Homo sapiens: one gene and its partners. The protein of the gene in region 2 interacts with the protein of the main gene of each other region in a pairwise test. Each region holds a gene or a part of one and is shown on either strand. Other genes may lie near its edges. The genes, in order: FGF14, ACACA and AKR1B10.

Evidence for each region.
Region 1: the proteins of ACACA (region 2) and FGF14 interact in binary tests that used the Homo sapiens proteins (3 or more experiments, as listed by UniProt).
Region 3: the proteins of ACACA (region 2) and AKR1B10 interact in binary tests that used the Homo sapiens proteins (3 or more experiments, as listed by UniProt).

What each region holds. Positions count from the first base shown.
Region 1 is NC_000013.11:101,906,861-101,913,973, reverse strand, and holds part of FGF14 (fibroblast growth factor 14), read left to right. Parts: intron 1-7,113. UniProt on the Homo sapiens protein: Probably involved in nervous system development and function.
Region 2 is NC_000017.11:37,242,801-37,249,913, reverse strand, and holds part of ACACA (acetyl-CoA carboxylase 1), read left to right. Parts: intron 1-1,239; coding exon 1,240-1,321; intron 1,322-1,757; coding exon 1,758-1,903; intron 1,904-2,937; coding exon 2,938-3,088; intron 3,089-4,699; coding exon 4,700-4,834; intron 4,835-4,938; exon of another isoform or gene 4,939-5,113; intron 5,114-5,179; coding exon 5,180-5,326; intron 5,327-6,354; coding exon 6,355-6,543; intron 6,544-7,113. UniProt on the Homo sapiens protein: Cytosolic enzyme that catalyzes the carboxylation of acetyl-CoA to malonyl-CoA, the first and rate-limiting step of de novo fatty acid biosynthesis.
Region 3 is NC_000007.14:134,530,454-134,537,566, reverse strand, and holds part of AKR1B10 (aldo-keto reductase family 1 member B10), read right to left. Parts: intron 6,925-7,113; coding exon 6,757-6,924; intron 5,660-6,756; coding exon 5,543-5,659; intron 4,564-5,542; coding exon 4,486-4,563; intron 1,951-4,485; coding exon of another isoform or gene 1,852-1,950; exon of another isoform or gene 928-1,851; intron 918-927; coding exon 795-917; intron 517-794; coding exon 410-516; intron 1-409. UniProt on the Homo sapiens protein: Catalyzes the NADPH-dependent reduction of a wide variety of carbonyl-containing compounds to their corresponding alcohols. Displays strong enzymatic activity toward all-trans-retinal, 9-cis-retinal, and 13-cis-retinal.

The DNA of each region.
Region 1 (7,113 bases), on a different chromosome or scaffold from region 2:
TACAGCAGTGAATAGAAGAGTTGAAGTTCCTGCCATCATGGAGCTCACAAACATGGGGTAGAGAGTCATTGCCTATGGAAAGGAACAAATTAATAAGAAATAATAAAATTCAAAGTCCTATAAAGCATGAAGAGAGCTGGGATAAAGAATTATGGAGGAGAGAGGGGTGGGGAGAGGGATCTAATTAGATAAAGTAGTCAGGGTGGGCAACACTGGGATCCACAGGTTGAGAGATGACAGGTAAGAAGGATGCAGAGATTTTAAGAGCAGGTAGAAAAAGCAATGTGTGTGCAGAGACCTTGAGGTGGAAAAAATATTGTCCCATTGGGAGAAAAAAAAGAGGCATAGAAATTTTAAGCACATTGTCAAGTAGAATATAGTGTGATATGCTTGAAAACAGAATAAAGAATAGCTCCACATTTTGTGTTTTGGGGAAGGGTAATACACATTTTTGAAATGTAGGGTTTTAAAAAATCCTTTATTAAGTAGTAATTTATTTAATGTAAAGATTATTGAGTTGGAGCCCTACACCCACACTCTTTCCTATCTCCATCACCCCTACCCCTATAGAAGAGTGATGTTTATACCAGTTGACTTACTCTTGTGAAGGACAGAAATTTGCAAGATGGCTATTAATGGTGTGGTAGGCAGCATGACTGCAACCCACCTTTCCAGATTCAGCTCCATCTACCCTCCACCGACCTCCACAGATTTCAAACACAATACAATGCCACACACCCCGCAAATTAGTCATATGCTTTCAAATCCTTATCCTTTTGTTTGTGCTTTACTGTGTGTCTAGCATCTTCTCCTCACTTCTACATTCACCTGTTGAAATTATGAAATTATTCTCATTTTGAAAAGCTGAGAGAAAATGCCATCTCCTCTGAGAAGCCTTCATTTATTGGATACAATTAAAAATAATTCTCCTGTGGTATTTCATACGTCACTGTTGTTGTTTATATATACCTGATAATAATTAATTAAGTATACATATTCAGCTGATTGTAGGGAAGAAGCAAAGTCTGTGTTTTCTGCATCTTCATAGGCTCTCAAATCTTGAGAGTGTTTGCCATACACTGGGTTCTCCTCATTGCCCTTGGATTGGAGTGAAATAAGGAAGGTTAATAGGCCCAAGCTAAAAAAGAAAGTATCCTTGAACCAGAGTGATCTAACTAGATAATTTTAGACATAAAAATACTTTTCAAATTTTATACCTTTTTTACTTTCCCTAAATAAATATAATTATATCTTTTTTTAAGAGAATTAGAGGGATTACATATTTGTGGGTTATTTATAAGAATGCAAGAACATAAACAACCTCATTTTAAAGCTTAACTAATATATGAACAAAGATATTTACATATATTGATTTAGCCAAAGAAAGGGGAATTTACAAGGAAATCAACAGTTTGCAAATAGTTTTATTATTTGGAATCTTAACAAAAATGAAAACTAAAGTAGCCACTGACTACAATGGTGTATAATGAACATTGTATCCCCAAAAGTGTTATGTTTTTATTATGAATTTTTCAATCAAACAAGAACCATAATTGTTCACAGGATAATAACCTTTCTAAATCTTTGGCATGGCTGCTAATGCAGTTGTTTCTTGAGATTTACTTTTTTGGGGCTGTGATCATGAGAGCTATGGTATTATGTGCCATGTATGCTTAATCAGCAGGTGCCTGGGCTTCTTACTAACATTTTAACTAAAATAAATTACAGTATGTATAAGGAATGGAAAGTGAGGTACTTAAAATGTGTTTTCAAGTTAATGCATAATATAAAAAGCAGAAATGCATGTACACCTATAGAAATAAACTGCTTTGCTCCAGTGTGATAGTGAAATCCATCAGTTATTCTAAGAAAAGTGTCCTTCCTTCTTACAAGGTGCTATGTAAGGAAACAAGTGTCTACCGTCTCAGAAAATAATCCACAGCAAATAGTCATCAAAAAAAAAAAAAAACACTGTTTTTGTGCGCTACTGTTTTAGTGTCATTACCATGTGCTCATACAAAGACCACATGCTTGTTTGTTTTGGCTGTTTTGGCTAAACTAAAACAAGGGAACATTTTTCTTCAAAGCACTTTTTATTTTTTGGAAGATATTTTCTCTTTGGTGTTGGTTTTCTAAGGCCATACCCATTGGAGTCTTACTACATATTAATACCTGTTGCTAACTTTTTGATAATTATAATTTTATTATTTGTTAGTTGTATTAAGGTTAGATCAAATTATGGTCTTCTAAATTAAAATGTTGAGTTTTGTTTTGTTTTGTTTTTAACAAGGGACATACTATAAATGCAATTTCTAAGCAGGGAATCTTATGAGAATATTACCAGATTGGTCAATGAAATAATGTTAGAGACAAAAAAGGCATTCATTGTTTATGCATTTTCCTCCTGTGGCTTAATTGTTATGATTTCACAGTCCATATTTGCTATAGGTTTCTGAAAATGTTTAATACCTCAGTAGTTCAATAAGTAAAGTGTAAAATAGTGTAACAGATTAGGTATAATGTAATTAAACATAAAGAAGATGGTTTGCTTTGGGTTTAGTTATATCCATAGATTGAGTTGAGTTTACATATATTAATAATCTATGGCCAACTGTCTGGTGAAGAAATCCTGTGACCTTTCCTAACAAGATTTCAGATACACAAAACCTTCTGTCCCAAAGTTACCGTAATCAATTACGGGCTTCACTTCACATTTTGAATTTGAATACTTTTACATTTAGCCCCAAACTTGTGATTTTTGTTAGTAATTCCATTCTCTATGATGTTACTGTGAGAACAAGTATTTTCAAACCCAACAAGAACCTCCCTTCTCTTTGGTGTAAAGTTACGTCTTCTAAATTTTATTTATTTAAATTTTTTTAAATGGTAGAAATTTAAAAGGAAAGGTTTCTAAATATGATTTATCCACTTAGTTATGGAATTCTATATTTTTCTTAGATATAATTTATATTAATGTCTCCCCAAATGTTGAGAAACTTTAGCCAAAGAGGACTATGATATTTAGATAATACAAATGTTATATAATATTTCAAATATTGTTTTAGCACCCAACAACTAAAACACACACACACACACACACACACACACACACACACACACACACACACACACACACGAATCCAAATCTCTAAGAGACCATTTCAGAGACGTCAATGCAATTTAAAGCCAGTTACAGTGTTTGCATTAGAAAACAACTAATTTCATAGTTTTGGTCTATAATGGTCCAGCATTCAATTTAAGAAACTCAGATCACATGAAAATGTCACCATTTGCTGTTTACTGGGGTGACAGTATACCAGTAGGCATGCGTAGAAATGCAGACACAGTGTCTACACCATTTTATGATAGGTACTACTTTGTCATTCAGAAAAATGTCTCCTTTCATAAAATTAAATTTTGTAATTTATTTTGTGGAATGTATGTTTCTCCCTATGATTTTATGGTTTTTGATATTGGGATTGATAGGAACCCATACGGCATCACCATAGGGAAGGGCCACTTCAAAGTCATTGTCTCACCAGTGCCTGGCATACAGCTAACACTTCAGAAGTATTTGTTGAGTGAATGAAACATACCACATTTGTCAGGACATATATGCAGCAGAAGCATAGAATACAATTGAGATAAATGAACGCATAGCAATGGCTATAATTGGATAATTATTATTATTATTATTTTGGTCTGATTTACTTTTTATTTTATTTATTTTTTTATACTTTATGTTTTAGGGTACATGTGCACAAAGCGCAGGTTTGTTACATATGTATACATGTGCCGTGTTGGTGTGCTGCACCCAGTAACTCGTCATTTAACATTAGGTATATCTCCTAATGCTATCCCTCCCCCCTACCCCCACCCCACAACAGGCCCTCGTGTGTGATGTTCCCCTTCCTGTGTCCATGTGTTCTCCTTGTTCAATTCCCACCTATGAGTGAGAACGTGCGGTGTTTGGTTTTTTTGTCCTGGTGATAGTTTGCTGAGAATGATGGTTTCCAGCTTCATCCATGTCCCTACAAAGGACATTAACTCATCATTTTTTATGGCTGCATTGTATTCCATGGTGTATATGTGCCACATTTTCTTAACCCAGTCTATCATTGTTGGACATTTGGGTTGGTTCCAAGTCTTTGCTATTGTGAATAGTGCCGCAAGAAACATATGTGTGCGTGTGTCTTTACAGAAGCATGATTTATAGTCCTTTGGGTATATACCCAGTAATGGGATGGCTGGGTCAAATGGTATTTCTAGTTCTAGATCCCTGAGGAATCGCCACACTGACTTCCACAATGGTTGAACTAGTTTACAGTCCCACCAACAGTGTAAAAGTGTTCCTATTTCTCCACATCCTCTCTATCACCTGTTGTTTCCTGACTTTTTAATGATCGCCTTTCTAACTGGTGTGAGATGGTATCTCATTGTGGTTTTGATTTGCATTTCTCTGATGGCCAGTGATGATGAGCATTTTTTCACGTGTCTTTTGGCTGCATAAATGTCTTCTTTTGAGAAGTGTCTGTTCATATCCTTCACCCACTTTATGATGGGGTTGTTTGTTTTTTTCTTGCAAATTTGTCTGAGTTCATTGTAGATTCTGGATATTAGCCCTTTGTCAGATGAGTAGATTGCAAAAATTTTCTCCCATTCTGTAGGTTGCCTGTTCACTCTGATGGTGGTTTCTTTTGCTGTGCAGAAGCTCTTTAGTTTAATTAGATCCCATTTGTCAATTTTGGCTTTTGTTGCCATTGCTTTTGGTGTTTTAGACATGAAGTCCTCGCACATGCCTATGTCCTGAATGGTATTGCCTAGGTTTACTTCTAGGGTTTTTATGGTTTTAGGTCTAAAGTTTAAGTCTTTAATCCATCTTGAATTAATTTTTGTGTAAGGTGTAAGGAAGGGATCCAGTTTCAGCTTTCTACTTATGGCTAGCCAGTTTTCCCAGCACCCTTTATTAAACAGGGAATCCTTTCCCCATTTCTTGTTTTTGTCAGGTTTGTCAAAGATCAGATAGTTGTGGATATGTGGCATTATTTCTGAGGGCTCTGTTCTGTTCCATTCATCTATATCTCTGTTTTGGTACCAGTACCATGCTGTTTTGGTTACTGTAGCCTTGTAGTATAGTTTGAAGTCAGGTAGCATGATGCCTCCAGCTTTGTTCTTTTGTTTTAGGATTGACTTAGCAATGCGGGCTCTTTTTTGGTTCCACATGAACTTTAAAGTAGTTTTTTCCAATTCTGTGAAGAAAGTCATTGGTAGCTTGATGGGGATGGCATTGAATCTATAAATGACCTTGGGCAGTATGGCCATTTTCATGATATTGATTCTTCCTACCCATGAGCATGGAATGTTCTTCCATTTGTTTGTATCCTCTTTTATTTCATTGAGCAGTGGTTTGTAGTTCTCTTTGAAGAGGTCCAATAATTGGATAATTATTAATGTATTTAACAACTACCTGCATGACACTCTGTGTCTATTGAGTACTATTTAATCTTCACAACAAACCCATGTGGTAGGTACACTACATTATCCATTCATTAATACACTAAATTATCCAGTAATCGATAATACACTAATATTATCCATTCATTCATTTTACAGATGAGGAATCGGAAACAAAAATAAAAAGCTTGCATAGCTTTGAAGAGTGGGGCTGGGATTAGGAGAAGATCTGCTAACTGTTTAGCCCATCTGCCTGCCTACTATTTGCCTGCACTTACAAGGCTGAATTTGGCTGAAGAAAAATACGCAGACACATTGGTCCTACTTTAAATTCACAGTCAATAACCTCAGGGGGCCCCTTGGTACATTTCTTTTTTAAAATCCATTTTCACTTAACTGGATCATATTTCTTACCTTACTTCCCTTCAAACCTCTTATGTCTCCTCTCCCATTTCTACTCTCAGCTATATCCTTACTTCTATTTGTCTGAGAAAGTAGAAATAATAAGAAATAAATGTTCACATACTCCACAACTGCTTTTATAAGTCTATCTGCAGATCTATCCATTTACTCCTCTTTTTATTTTTTTACTGAACTTGGGGATAAACTCCTAGTGCTGTAATCTAAGTTCAAGACCTCATCAAATTTAGCATTAGACCATCTCTCCTACTCAGGGAAATCAATCCAATAATTTTCTTCTCTTCTGCATCATCCTACTGTGTTATCCCACATCCTCCTGTATTATCCTTAACAGTATTTAAATATGCTCTAATATTTAGAACATCTTAAATAATTACCCCATGTTAAAAAAGAATCCCCTCTTGGTTATGCATTTCTCTCTAGCTATTGAATTAATTGTCTGTTACTGGCAAAACTCTTTGAAAGAGAAATTGCAACTATCCTTCTCCCATTCTCTCTTGGACCCTTTCTAAACAGGTGTTTGTCCCCAGTAACAAACTGTTCTTGTCACGGTCACCCATGACCTGCAAGTGATCAAACTCAAGATTCTGTTTTCAGTTCTTATCCTACCCGTATAGTATTTGGCATTCAAATTTTCATAATAAATTTGTATTTTTTACTACAAAGTGGTAAAGTTAGCATCGAAATACTTTAAACCTACCATTTACCCAACCAGTACCCTTTATGCGATCATCTTTTTATAGTGACGATATATTTGGGTTTCTAATTGAGAGTATTAATACGTTAACTATTCCATGTGATTTGATGTTCAGCCAAACACTAATAGTACTCAGTTGGTATTCGGGTACCATTAGAAGGCAATGCTTGGTGTTTCCTTACTTGGGAAGAATATTCCTTTCATCACATGTATTTGTGTTTGGACAGAGTGGCTTGTCTCTATAAAACAGAAGAAGATGAATGGTCTTTCTGAGAATTAGTCTTTGTATTTAAATATAATAGATTTGTGATTAAGCAACGGCTGCTTTTCAGACTCCTTAATTACTATCATAGCAAATAATCATTGGCAAACTAAAATATTAGTTTGCTTAATGATAAATATCACTCAAGTTTAAGCATTATGTAGAAAGAAATAGTCATAAACTTTGGAAGGGCCGTTTATCATAGTTCATTTTCTCTATGTGGAACGTTTTCATGGATAGATTTGTTCCTTATTTTTACACCTAAGGGTTTCAAGTATTG
Region 2 (7,113 bases):
GAACAGTATGGGGGAACCGCCCCCATGATTCAAGTATCTCCCACTGGGTCCGTCCCACACCACAAGAGAATTATGGGAGCTACAGTTCAAGATGAGATTTGAGTGGGAACACAGCCGAACCATATCAACATGCAATATTTGTTTCTTCCCACCTCCTGGTTTTTTAAAACTCAAATGGTAGCATGCTGTGAAGCTGTTATTTACCTTGCTTTTTTAACTCAACAGTATATTTTTTAAAGTGTTTTTTAGTTCACATCTTTTTAATGTCTGTATGTTTTGTTCCACATGTGAAAACATGCGCAACATCACTAATCATTAAGTAAATAAAATCAAAACCATGATGAGATACCACCTCACACCCATTAGGATGCCCACTGTCAAAAAACAGAAAATAGCAAGTATTGGCAAGTACGTAGAGAAATTGGGACACTTGTGCACTCTTGATGGGAATGTAAAATGATGCAGCCACTATTGAAAAATGGTATTGCAATTACTGAAAAAATTAAAAATAGAATTACCCTATGATCTGGTAATACCACTTCTGGGTATTCTGAAAGAATTGAAAGCAGGGTCTGAAAGATACTTGCACAGCCACATTCATAGGAGGATTATTCACAGTAGCTAAAAGATGGGAGCAACTCAGATGTTGGTTGATGGATGACTGGATAAACAAAATGTGGCATATACATACAATACAGTATTATTCAGCCTTAAAGAAGAAGGAAATTCTGACACATGCTAAAACATAGGTGGATCTTAAGGACATTAGGGCAAGTGAATTAAGCCTGTCACAAAAAGACAAATACTATATGGTTTTACTTATATGAAGTATGAAGAGTAGTCAGACTCATAGAACTAGAAAGTAGAATGACGGTTACCAGGAACTGGGGGGAGGGCGAAATTGGGAGTTGTTAATGGGTGTAGAGTTTCACTTTTGCCAGTTGAAAAAGTCCTGCAGATTGGTTGCAGAATAGTGTTAATATCCCCAACACTATAGAACTGTGCATTTTGTAATGGTTAAGATGGCAAATTTAATGTAATGTGTATTTTACCCTAATTTAAAAAAATCCATTGTAAGATTCATAATTGATGTGATCAATTCCTTACAAACGATCATTTAGGTATTTAGGTTGTTTCTAGTCTTTTGTTATTCTAGGAAATGCTACAATCAATAATGTTTTAGATTCTCTTATAACTGTTAGAACTTTGTAGTAAGTTCCTCTCTCATCGTTCTTTCAGGGGTCAAGTCCTTCCTGCTCATACACTTCTGAATACAGTAGATGTTGAACTTATCTATGAGGGAGTCAAGTATGTACTTAAGGTATGCAGAACCCCATTGGAGCTTGCACCTTACTTTTTTAGCTATCTTTCTTTAGGTTGAGAGGCAGGAGAAAAAGTTTGATTTAATGCAGGGATGGGGGTATTAGTGAAATTACCGTCATTATTTTTGTCAGTGTCCTGAAGCAGCGTTTGTTGTTCTATGAAAATCTTTTTTGTTGTTCTTCAACTTCACATACACTGCCAAGAGATAAAGGAGAGACAGAGAACAACCACAGTTGGGGAAAATCAACTAAGGTTGCCCTCTTTGCTTACAGCAGGACTGAGCCATGTCCACAGACACTGATGCAAATAGCATCAGTGCCATGAATTTTCTTCCTCCTGACAGATCTTTCTTATCTGTATTTTTGAAGCATTCAAATTTCATTTGGAGCTGTACCTGGAAGGGACACACTGATCCTCATTCTCATTCCCTACAGGTGACTCGACAGTCCCCCAACTCCTATGTGGTGATCATGAATGGCTCATGTGTAGAAGTAGATGTACATCGGCTGAGTGACGGTGGACTGCTCTTGTCCTATGATGGCAGCAGTTATACTACGTATATGAAAGAGGAAGTGGATAGGTAAGTGGCTGTTTGAGGTCCATTTGCTGGTCATCCTGTTAGCCTTTTCTCTTATTAGCTACTAGCTCTTGGGATTTTCCCAGGCTTTTCTTGGTACTCATTTGTAGTTAAAAAAAAAAAAAATAGTACATGCACTTAACAAAAATATCAAGAGTATTAAAGTGTTTATAATTAAAAACATGTCTCCCTACCACTCCAGTGTATGTGGACAATGAAAAATAAGTTCCCCTTTTTATAAGTAACCATTGTTAAAAGTTTCTTACATATTTGAGTAGAAATTTTATATGCATATACAAGTTACACTCATGTACATACTGTTTTTCTTTAAATACATTCACAAATGTGGCTGGGCGCGGTGGCTCACGCCTGTAATCCCAGCACTTTGGGAGGCCGAGGCAGGTGGATCACCTGAGGCTGGGAGTTCAAGACCGGTGTGGCCAATGTGGTGAAACCCTGTCTCTACTAAAAATACAAAATTAACCAGATGTGGTGGCTTATGCCTGTAGTCCCAGCTACTTGGGAGGCAGAGGCAGGAGAATCACGTGAACCTGGGAGGTGGAGGTTGCGGTGAGCCGAGATCACGCCATTGCACTCCAGTCTGGGCAACAAGAGCAAAACTCCGTATCAAAAAAAAAAGAAATTCACAAATGTTCAACACCAGTTATGGTGTTATGAGAATGAAATAAATTAACATGTTGAAAATGTGTAGAACATTGCCACAACATAGCTAGGCTTCAAGAAATGTTAGCTATTACGTCATCAATATCTTTGTGTGTGTTTTTTTAAATGGTGGTACCTGTTATTTTTAATAGTCATGTGGTATTCCATTATATGATTATACTATATTTAATCTGATCCTTATTGAAGGAAATTTATGTTAATTGACATTGTAAACAAATATGCAGTGAATATGTCTGTGTGTGTGTATAATAAAGTTTTCAGGATTTTTTTTCTTTGAAGGTTGACATTCTCTACCATTCTCCTTTACATCCTGAGGTGCTTTCTTAGCTTACATACTTCCACTTGTCTCCTAGATATCGCATCACAATTGGCAATAAAACCTGTGTGTTTGAGAAGGAAAATGACCCATCGGTGATGCGCTCACCTTCTGCTGGGAAGTTAATCCAGTACATTGTAGAAGATGGAGGTCATGTGTTTGCCGGCCAGTGCTATGCTGAGATTGAGGTCAGGGTGGTGAAAGGACTGTGGGATCATGGGAGGGGAAGGTAGGAAAAGGGTCGGCTGGGATGGACTAGGACTGAAAAGTTACAGAAAGGAGGCTGGGCACAGTGGCTTGTGCCTGTAATCCTACCACTTTGGGAGGCTGAGGCAGGAAGATCGCTTGAGCCCAGGAGTTCGAGACTAGCCTGGGCAAGATGGTGAGACCCCATCTCTATGAAAAATTAAAAAATTAGCGGCGTACAGTGGCACATGCCTGTAGACCCAGCCACTCTGGTGTCTAAGGCGGGAGGATCCCTTGAGCCCAGGAATTCAAGGCAGCAGTGAATGGAGATTGTACCACTGTACTGGAGTGGTACAATTTGTGGCCTGCGTCACAAATCAAGACCCTATTTCTAAAAAATTAAAAAAAAAGGTAACAGATTGGAAATAAGAATGAAAAAGAAACATCAGTTGGCTTAATTAGAAGTGCGAACCTTAAGATTTTTAAAACACATAGGCAAATGAGGAATCTCTAGTTCTAAAAATAGATACTAGGCAATAGCACTTGTTGAATGTTAGGTGTCCTAACTGCTGGCTATCCAGAGAAAATACATGGAGGTGGGGCACAAAACAGACAAGAAATGTCATGTGATTAATTTTAAGAGAGCTAAGCATAGAGTGCAGAGGGTCACCTAACCCAAATCAAGCTAAGCTTGTATGGGAAGATATTCTGAAAGAAGAGACATTTGATCTTAGTTTTGAAAGACAGATAGTGATAGAGCAGGTGAAGAAGGGCAGGGAAGAGTGCTTAAAGTTGAAGGAATAGCATGTACAAAGACAGAAGCAAGACAGCACAGTGTATTTAGGGAACTGCAAGTATGTGTTGGTGTGGCTTGAGAATAGACTAAGGTTTAATGGGGAGGGACAAGCAAAGGTGCTAAAGAAGTAATGTGAGATCTTGAATGTGAGGTTATGAAGGATCTTATAAACCATACTAGTAAGTTTTCACTATCCTGGAGGCAGCAGGTAATCTCTGAAAGATTTAAGTGGAAAAGTAGTATGATGAGATTTGGGGTCTAGGAAGATTGCTTTTCGTGACCTTGAGGGAGGTATGTAGCAAGTAGGGAGATCTCTTAGGGGGTCTTTGAAGTACTTTGGGCCAGAAATGAAGAAGGCGTAAACCGAAGAGTTGGCAAGAGAGGAAGATTTTTGAGAAAGGTTTAGAAGATATGTCTGGCTGGGTTGGTAATTGGTAGGTAAGGGAGAAAGAGGAGTGAAGAATGATCCTTAGGTTTTGGCCTGGTTGTCTTAGATTGGATTCACTGGTATGAGGATATTAAATTGTTCCTTACTTTCTAAGTACAAAACAAATATAATCACAAATTATGCCAAAATGGTTGTAAAAGTTAGAAAGGAGAAATGTCAATAACTGTTATTAATTCCTAAAGTGAGGTACTGAGAGATTTTCTAATTGCTTGCCTTGATAGTCCCTAGGAGATGATGGTAAATTCCCATTTTTTCTTGGTCAAATTAGGTGTGGTCCAACTTAGATGCTAAGGGAAAAATTTTAGTTCTTTTAAGCACTCATCTGTGTAAAGAGAGATAAATCTGAGTCTAGTTTATTTTTCACTATAGGTAATGAAGATGGTAATGACCTTAACAGCTGTGGAGTCTGGCTGTATCCATTACGTCAAGCGACCTGGAGCAGCTCTTGACCCTGGCTGTGTACTAGCCAAAATGCAACTGGACAACCCCAGCAAGGTTCAGCAGGTGAGTAGGAAGGTGCTCCGAATATTGCTCTCTAAGAGCTAAAGAACTTGGTGGTTTGGAGAGGCAAGTGATTTCAATGCTTGGTTTGCCAGTGTTTTCTTTAGCTTTGTCCCCTATTAATCTTATGCCTTGTATTTGTGCCTGTAGTATTATGGAACTAGAGTTTGCAAGAGTTACTGTAGTACTAAGATTCTGTAATTTCCTTATGATGTTTCCTCTATTGACTTCCCTCCTGGTAGCTGGGTATGATGTCTCGATTTTGAATGATAACTCTTAAGTGCAGTGGTGTGTTTGTACCTTAGATCAAAAGTAGTAGATGACTTGATCTCTTGTTGGGGTTGACAGGCTGAACTTCACACAGGTAGTCTGCCACGGATCCAGAGCACGGCACTCAGAGGCGAGAAACTCCATCGAGTGTTCCATTATGTCCTGGATAATCTGGTCAATGTAATGAATGGATACTGCCTTCCAGATCCTTTCTTTAGCAGCAAGGTATGTATCACGTCTCCTGGGGAAGGGATGTACAAATGGGATACCTATTCTCCAAAATAGTTCCAAGTCTCATAATGATTGTTTAAGAGGGAGGAAAAGAAAGCTGTTTGGCCTAGAACTCTTTCACCTTCAGTTGTGGGACTTGAGGTCTTTAAATCCATGTTTCTTATCCTTGTCATGGACTTCACATTTAATTGTGATTACTCCTTTTTTTTTTTCCTCGAGACGGAGTCTTGCTCTGTTGCCCAGGCTGGAGTGCAATGGCACAAACTCAGCTGACTGCAACCTCCACCTCCTGGGTTCAAGTGATTCTCCTGCCTCAACCTCCTGAGTAGTGGGGATTGTAGGCACGTGCCACCAGGCGCGGCTAATTTTTTTTTTTTTTTTTTAGTAGAGGTGGGGTTTCACCACGTTGGCCAGACTGGTCTTGAACTCCTGACTTTGTGATCTGCCCGCCTCGGCCTCCCAAAGTGCTGGGATTATAGGCGTGAGCCACTGTGCCCGCCCGTGATTAGTCCTTTTTAAACTGGAGAATAGGGGCAATGTTAGATGCTTACGTTGCAATTTCAAAGTACTCTATGATAGTTGGCTCACGCCTGTAATCTCACCACTTTGGGAAGCTGAGATGGAAAGATCGCTTGAGGCCAGGAGTTTGAGACCAGCCTGATCAACATAGCAAGACCCCATATCTATTGAAAATTATATAAATTTTTATTGAAAAGAAGTAGTATATGATAGTGAATTCAGATATAGTTGACTCTTGAACAATACAGGTTTGAACTGTGTGGGTCCACTTATATGTGGATTTTTTCAGCCAAACATGGATCAAAATTACAGTATTGATGAGATATGGAACCCACAACTATTTCTATACATGGGTTCCGTAGGGCTCAAGTATGTGCAGATTTTCATATATGAGTGGTGGTTCTGGAACCAATTTCCCACGTATACAGAATGACAACTATATATCTTTTTATTTGGGGGATTGTGTTAACTTGGGTCCTATTTTACCAATGCTTTCTTTCTAGGTAAAAGACTGGGTAGAGCGATTGATGAAAACCCTCAGAGATCCCTCCCTGCCTCTCCTAGAATTGCAAGATATTATGACCAGTGTGTCTGGCCGCATTCCCCCCAATGTGGAGAAGTCTATCAAGAAGGAAATGGCTCAGTATGCTAGCAACATCACATCAGTCCTCTGTCAGTTTCCCAGCCAGCAGGTATTTATAGGATAACACTATATTTTTTTCTGGCTACCAATGCCAGAGTTTATGTTGTAGGATTCCTTCCTATTTGGATCCTCCTTACTTTTTGGATGTTGTGCTTGTATACTTTTAAGCATTGTATTCCTCACAAAACTGCCTCAGGGTACAAACCCAACAGTGAAAGTACTGTATGTGAAGGATAAGTATCTGTAGTTATGAGAAAAGCACACTTGGATCATGTATACCTTATAGCTTTGTTCCTGGGGCTATTCCCTAATTAGAGGTATTTTCATGAATTGAAAATAGAGTGATATTAGTTGATTGATTGATTCATTCATTCACTCATTGATTTAGAGATGGAGTCTAGCTCTGTCACCAGGCTGGAGTGCAGTGGCTGATCTCGGCTCACTGCAACCCCTGCCTCCCGAGTTCAAGCAATTCTCCTGCCTCAGCCTCCTGAGTAGCTGGGATTACATTCACACGCTGCCATGCCAGCTAATTTTTGCATTTTTAGTAGTCACGGGTTTCACCATGTTGGCCAGGATGGTCTCGATCTCCTGACCTCGTGATCCGCCCACCTCGGCC
Region 3 (7,113 bases), on a different chromosome or scaffold from region 2:
GATGCTGATGTGAATAATCACCATGGCTACCATGTACAGAAGGACACCACTCCAATGAGGGTCTCAAGACTGATCATCAGAGCCTCTCCATCTGGGAGACAGGCAGGAGGACCTGGAAGCTTGGGTCCTTTCCCCGGGCTCTGAAGCCTCAGCATTTTGCAAAGCCTGGTTCACCCTTGGGTGGCTGAACTGGAAATATTCCCAGAGGGTCAAGCATGTCGCCCTTGGTGTTGTTGTTGTTGTTTAATTCCCATTTTTTCCCACTGCCATCCCATTTGTGTGTACCAAACGTGTTACCTTACACACATTTTTCTTTCCAGTAACTTATGGACCCATACCAACATTTACCAATTATAAAATAATGTTTTTAAGATTATCAAGAGAAAGACCCACCACTTGGAAGCCTCACCAAGGTCTATCCGGAGAGCCCAGGGGGCTGTAGGCCGTAACGGTGATGCCCTTGGAGTGGCAGTACTGGATCAGTTTCTCCTGTGTGAGGTATGGGTGACACTCAACCTGCAACAGCAAACAATCCTCATCACGGGGAAAGCCGGCTCTGTTTTGCATTGTTCCTAGGGAGTTCTACACACAAAAAAAGTCCACCAAGCAAAGGCCAAACACCTGCCCACTGAGATACTTGCTAAATCACCCGTGAGATCAGCCTCACACCTCCCCAAAGTGTCCTGATCACTGACCCCTGAGATGAGACTCAGGGCATAGCATTGAACATTCCTCCCGCAATGTTTAAGAAGTAATAGGGCAGGACCCTTACCCTTAAACTGAATAGAATTTACCTGGTTAGTCACTGGTTTATATTTCAGTCCAGGTTTGTTCAAGAGCTTCTCGATCTGGAAGTGGCTGAAATTGGAGACCCCAAGGGCTTTCACCAGCCCCTCATCCACCAGCTCCTCCATGGCCTATCATAGAAAGGAATACCTTATGGGCAGCTCTAGAGGGACTACAGGGACCCTGGCTTGCCTTAGTCCTCCCTGGGGCAGAAATTGCTAAAGGATCCACCGTAACAGGGTTAGCCGAAGCATTCACAGGAAATTTTAGTCCAGGGCCTGGGTGCCCATCAGTGACTGGTTCCAGCCCTACTGCCCCTCCCCAGCGCAAGAAAAACTAGGAGTAACAGGTAAAGATTTTATGTTCTTGCCACTCTCACCTTACACGTGAAGAAACACATAAAAAATTAAACTTCCTGTACACAGGGGAAATATGAAAGTTTTGTAATGCAAAAAAATAAAAAGTAAATAAAAATCAACATTTGTAAGCTTATGAGATGATTTAATTTTTAATGAATCCAAATGATAGCAGGGAGCTGCTGTTGTGTGTGTGCATTGCACACCCAAACCTGGGCAAGCTGTGTTAGTCAGGAAGAGGCTGCAGCATACGGAGAAGCCTCACTTGTGGGTCCTGAGTCCCTCTCTCCCACACTAAGCATGCTTTGGTTTGCAGGAAGGTCATGCATTCAGATTACACCCTGATAGGGGCACCCGGCCATGGAGTTGTGTGGGACTGAAGCCTGACCCACTGTTTGCATATCCAGCCATGCTTCCTGGTACAGAAACTGCATGGACACGCAAGGAAGGGAATCTTTGTATAATTTTTAGCCTATATTGGGCATTTTCCAAACTTGCCCAAAGATACCATACATGTTAGCAGCAGCCTCCAGTGCAATATGTATTTAGTAGCCATCTATTACATGTTCCAGATCCTGCCCAGAAGTTGTCAGGATGTAAATGTATACAATGTGCTCCCTTTTTCTGGGATTCTTATAGTCCAATTAAAGTGCTAGAGTTCCCTTCTATGGAGCCATCAATCATGACACTGAGGCTGCCTCAGATAACATCACAGCGGCATAGACAGAGTCAGAAAGGGCAGAGAAAGAAGAGATACATACAGCCCGCAGTTGTCAGGGGAGTCCTTCAGGTAGAGTATAAGCTGGGCCTCAAAAGAAAAAAAAAAAAAAAAAAAAAAAGACAGAAAAGAGGGAAAAAACATGAGCATATGACACAGGAAGGCAGGAGCAAAGCTCAGAGGCAGGGATAAGCACGACATGTTCAGGGAACACTTTATCCAGCCCTTCTCAACTTTGGCTGCAATTTGGAATCACCAGGGAGCTTTAAAAAATACTGGCTGGATGCAGTGGCTCATGACTGTAATCTCAGCACTTTGGGAGGTGACAGGAGGATTGGAACAGGGGTTTTGGGCCTAGGTTTGAGTAACCTAGGGTAAGTTTTTTAACTCTTGTAGGCCTTAGCTTTCTCTTCTTAAAAAAAGTCTTATAATACCTACTAATAATATATATGTTTCTGATATATATTACCAGAGGCTGAGACAGGAGGATTGCTTGAGGCCAGGTGTTGGAGACCATCCTGGGCAACATAGCAAGACCCTGTCTCTACAAAAAGAAATTTTTTTAATTAGCTGGATGTGGCGGCATGTGCCTTTGATTCCAGCTACTTGGGAGGATTGCTTCAGCCCAGGAGTCCGAGGCTGCACTAAACTATGATGATGCCATTGTACTCCAGCCTGGGCAACAGAGAGAGACTCTCTCTAAATTAAAAAAAAAAATTACCAGTGCCTGGATTTCACCCCCCAGAGTTTCTTACAGATTTTCTCTGAGTTGTAGCCTAGACGTTGGGATTTTTAAACTCCTCAGGTGATTCTAATGCATAGCCACGTTGAGAACCACTAGGATATATGATGTTATCCAAATTGGGCAGTAGAATTTAGAAGCTGTGAAATCATTAGGTTTCCCAAAATTTCAGATGGGGCAATTAGATAATTTAAAAGTTTTTGTGCACATAGGTCAGGTTAGTTTTCCTGTATTAGAACTTGACTTCTTTATACATTTTTCCTCCTCTCTGCTTCAATGTGGTCAGTGAGGTTTCTACTGAACTGGTTGTGGGTCTACATAAACATCCAACGCTTACATATTCAAGCCTGCTCATTTCAAATCAGAGCCTCTGATCTTGATCACTGCTATCTTTTCATGCCTTTCAAATGTTTTATTTAGCAGTCGTTCTTGTATTCATTCAAAAAACAGCACTGCGAGAAGCAGGCTACATTGACATACTTGCCATACTTCATGGCATCATAAGAGTTAAGATAAAAAAATCTTATCATATGTAATGCAAATAGCCAGGTGTGGTGGCTCACACCTGTAATCTGAGCACTTTGGGAGGCCAAGACAGGTGGATCCCTTGAGGTCAGGACTTCGAGACCAGACTGGCCAACATGGTGAAACCCCATCTCTACTAAAAATACAAAAATTAGCCAGGCGTGGTGGCATGCACCTCTAGTCCCAGCGACTCAGGAGGCTGAGGCAGGAGAATGGCTTTTACTTGGTAGAGGGACGTTGCAGTGAGCCAAGATTGTGCCACTGCACTCCAGCCTGGGTGACAGAGTGAGAGTGTCTAAGACAATAAAAACAACAAAAAGCTGTGCTTGTGGATTAATGCTTTTGAACAAACAATACACAGAAAAAGCTACATTTCATTGAATCATGTCAATTATAAGCATTTCAGAAAGTTGAAACATAATATATTTTTGCTTGTAAAACACAATACAAACTCGCAACTACATGCACACCTACACAGACAGCTACCAAAATAACACGATTAACTCTTGGAGTCATAAGCCACTGTTCATTTATAACTTATTCCTCCACTTCATTCTCTACTAGCATTTGCAAAAGGGTATAAATAATAAAAAATGACCAGAGAAAATGTTCATCCCTTCATTCATTTTGAATGTGAATGACGTGAAACAGGTCATGGTTAGATCTGAGAAGCAGAGCACTCAGGCTCCCTGATTTCTGGATGTGTCTTCACTGCCTGCCAAGCACCATGCTGATGGCTTTGGTGGTTGGACTTGTGATTCAGATGAGTCTGGGTCTAATCCCAGCTCTGCCACACACATTGTGACAAGACCTGGGCAAGTCATCAAACAATCTAGGTTTCAAATGTCATTATTTATAAATGGGGATGTTAACCCTGTCTCCTAGGGTTAAATGGGCTTTATGACTAATGTTCCTGGCATGTAAACCATCTTAATCTTTATCACACACTGGAAGATATATATTGGTAGTATGTATTATACAACTTCTTTTTAAGAAGAGAAAACTGAGCCCTACATGAGTTACAAAACTGACCCTAGGTTACTCAGCTGCTATGAGCACACCCAGGCCCAAACCTCCTGTTCCAAATGCCTCGCCCTGGTTTGAGAACAGCATGTGTATTCCCCAAAGTGGGGTACATTGTATTTCCAGTCTTATTTGAAGACTATTAGCCTTGAAATATAAATAGTATCAGATGTACCCAAAAGCCAAAGGTGATGAGGAAGATATTAGAAGAGCTAGAAAATCACAATGATGAAATTAGAAAGCATCAGGCACATGGCCTCATTCATATCCATGCGAATCTCATGGATAACTGAAGATTTCTCTCCCAGCACACTTAGAGGAAGCTGGGAACCTACCTCCCAGGCATCCAAGAACGTTGCTTTTCCACCGATGGCATTACCTTTATCATCTTTGGGGAAAAGGTCATCCCCAGACTGTGAACACAGAATGAAAAGTTTACTGGAATCTGCATCAGGACACTTGGTTCTGTTCAACAAGGTTTCAGGATCCTGACTCTTGCTAAATACCACATCTGCATACCACTTTTTCAAGTTCTGGAGTACATACTTTAGGAATGTGAGTTTAATTAAAATCTCTGTATCTACTGTAGCATACTAATATTTTAGAAACGACTGGCTTGACTTTAAGATTTGCTGCTAGTACATTCCAGAAGTTCATTATCACCATGGACATTAACCTCATACACCTAGATCCCATATACAACCAAGGGCAAACTTTCATTTCAATATTACTGGATAAGGATTAGATATCCAAGCTGTGGTTTTCTGGAGAAGATATTGGCCAACTTCTATCCTTGCAGCCTCTAGAAGAGGCGTGGAATTAGGGGTGGCAGGCCATCATCACTCCAGTTGGTCAGGAGGGGAGAGAGCTGGAAATTTGTCTCTCCCACCCCTCAGGAGCAGGTAAGAGCAGAGCCCCAGGCAATGGGTGCCTGGATCACTACTGGCTTCCTTCCAGCATCACCATACTTGGGCTTTTCTCCAAGATGCCACTCCCAGGTGTACTTTGCTTAATAAGATAATTATGCCCTGGAATATAGTTATGCAAGAGTAACCCAAGAGATTTCCTGGGAGGGCAACCCTGGGGCGTGGAATCAAGACAAAGGTGATATGGCAGTTGCAACTTGTCTGGGCTGCCAGAAATCATGTCTTCTCTCAGACATAACTGCAAGAAAACCCAGGCATGTGGCCACCTCAGCAGCACACATGGCCTCAACCTCCCTTCCAGGCCAGTGTGTTTCTTCTCCAAGGTCTCTTCCTGACCACCTGCCATTCCCAATTATGAAATGCAAGGCCTCCTGCCCCAGTCCACACCACCCCACAGCCCTGGTGCAGCTACTATTTTCTGGCACCTGCTCAGAAACTAGAGGCTGAGAAAGAGAGTGTCTTAAACCTTGAATCCCTGTGGCCAGTGAATAAGATAGACGTCCAGATAGCTCAGCTTCAGGTCCTTGAGGGTCTTCTCAAAGGCTTTCCTCACAAGGGGTCTCTCAAAGAAAGTGGGCCACAACTGCAAAGAGTGTAGCAATGAGCTATTAATACTGGGAAAAGGAAGGGCCACATTGTACTCATTGTCCCTGCTTTTTGATTTGCATCCTCATCTAACCCACCACAAGCCATTTGTAACAAAGCTGATTAAGATCCACGACACAGTGTGGAACATCACCAGGGCTCAGCACCTCAATGACATGTCTTAAGTGTTAAAAGCAATTGACTTTTTCAACTGTCCTAGTACTCTATACGTGTCTCAGATCATTGAAGTAAATGTGGCCACAGATTTGAAATTTGTTTACCTGTCTCAGTCTCTTCCTCAGCTGTAGGCTCTCTGAGAGCAGGAATTGTGTGTAGCTTTTAAATGTCAAGCATTCTTAGGCCTTTGGGAGCAGATGGTCCTTTATCTGACCTATCTGATAGGTCCCTTATCAAGCCTATAAGGCCCCAAGTGATAATTTTACAAAGGCTTTATCCAGACTTGGCTGCTACACAGTGAGGTCTATTTGTCCTACCAGATGTATGCATTTTCCAAGTACCTAGAACTAGTGTTATTTTTTTTCAGCAAGTTATGTATAATATAGATCCAGTGATTCTCAGCCCTCTCACACCCAACATCTTCTTCTTTTTTATAACATTGTATCCCTCACCTTTTACTAGAATGAATAAAGAAATTCATATGTGACAATAGAAAAATGCCCCTACCATTTTCTAAAATTCCCCCTGGCTGAGAGTCTCAGGGGCACAGTCACTGAGATCACAGTGCTGAAAGGGAGGCTTCAGATCAAGACCCGCCTGCACCCTTGGCCTCTGATTGCCTCTGGGCAGATGGTAGATCCCTCTGATGGGGAACAGGGAGGCCCAGGGCAGTGCAGGGTTCCATGGAACCAAGCCCACTATGGGAAAACCAACCTACAGGCAGGTGGGGCAGCCACGACATGTTCAAATATCAATAATGGCTTGGAGTATGGATAGTGTTGTATTCACGGATGTTATCAAGGCAGAGATGAAAAGGGGTACATGTAGAAAAGGCTGACAGAGTTCTTGCTGCCAACCCGACCCAGATACTTCTGCCTGCCTTGAAGTGAAGGCCTCCCACCAAATGCACCATTGCACCTTGCTGACGATGAACAGGTCCTCCCGCTTCACAGCCTTCTCTTGGATCTTCTCTTGGATGGCTTCCCCCACTTCATGTTCATTCTGATAGACATAGGCACAGTCAATGTGCCGATATCCTGCATCAATGGCCACCTTCACTGCTTCTTTCACTTTGCCAAGAGGAGACTGAAAGGCAAAAGAAAAGCTCATCACATATGTGTTTTTTTTAAGAGATGGGGCCCTGCCGTGTTGCCCAGGCTGGCCTCACACTCCCAGGTTCAAGCAACCCTCCCACCTCCCGAGTAGCTGGAATTACACCACTCTCAGCAACCATCATATTCTCTTATCCCCAGGCCACCTTCAACAGGCTGCCCC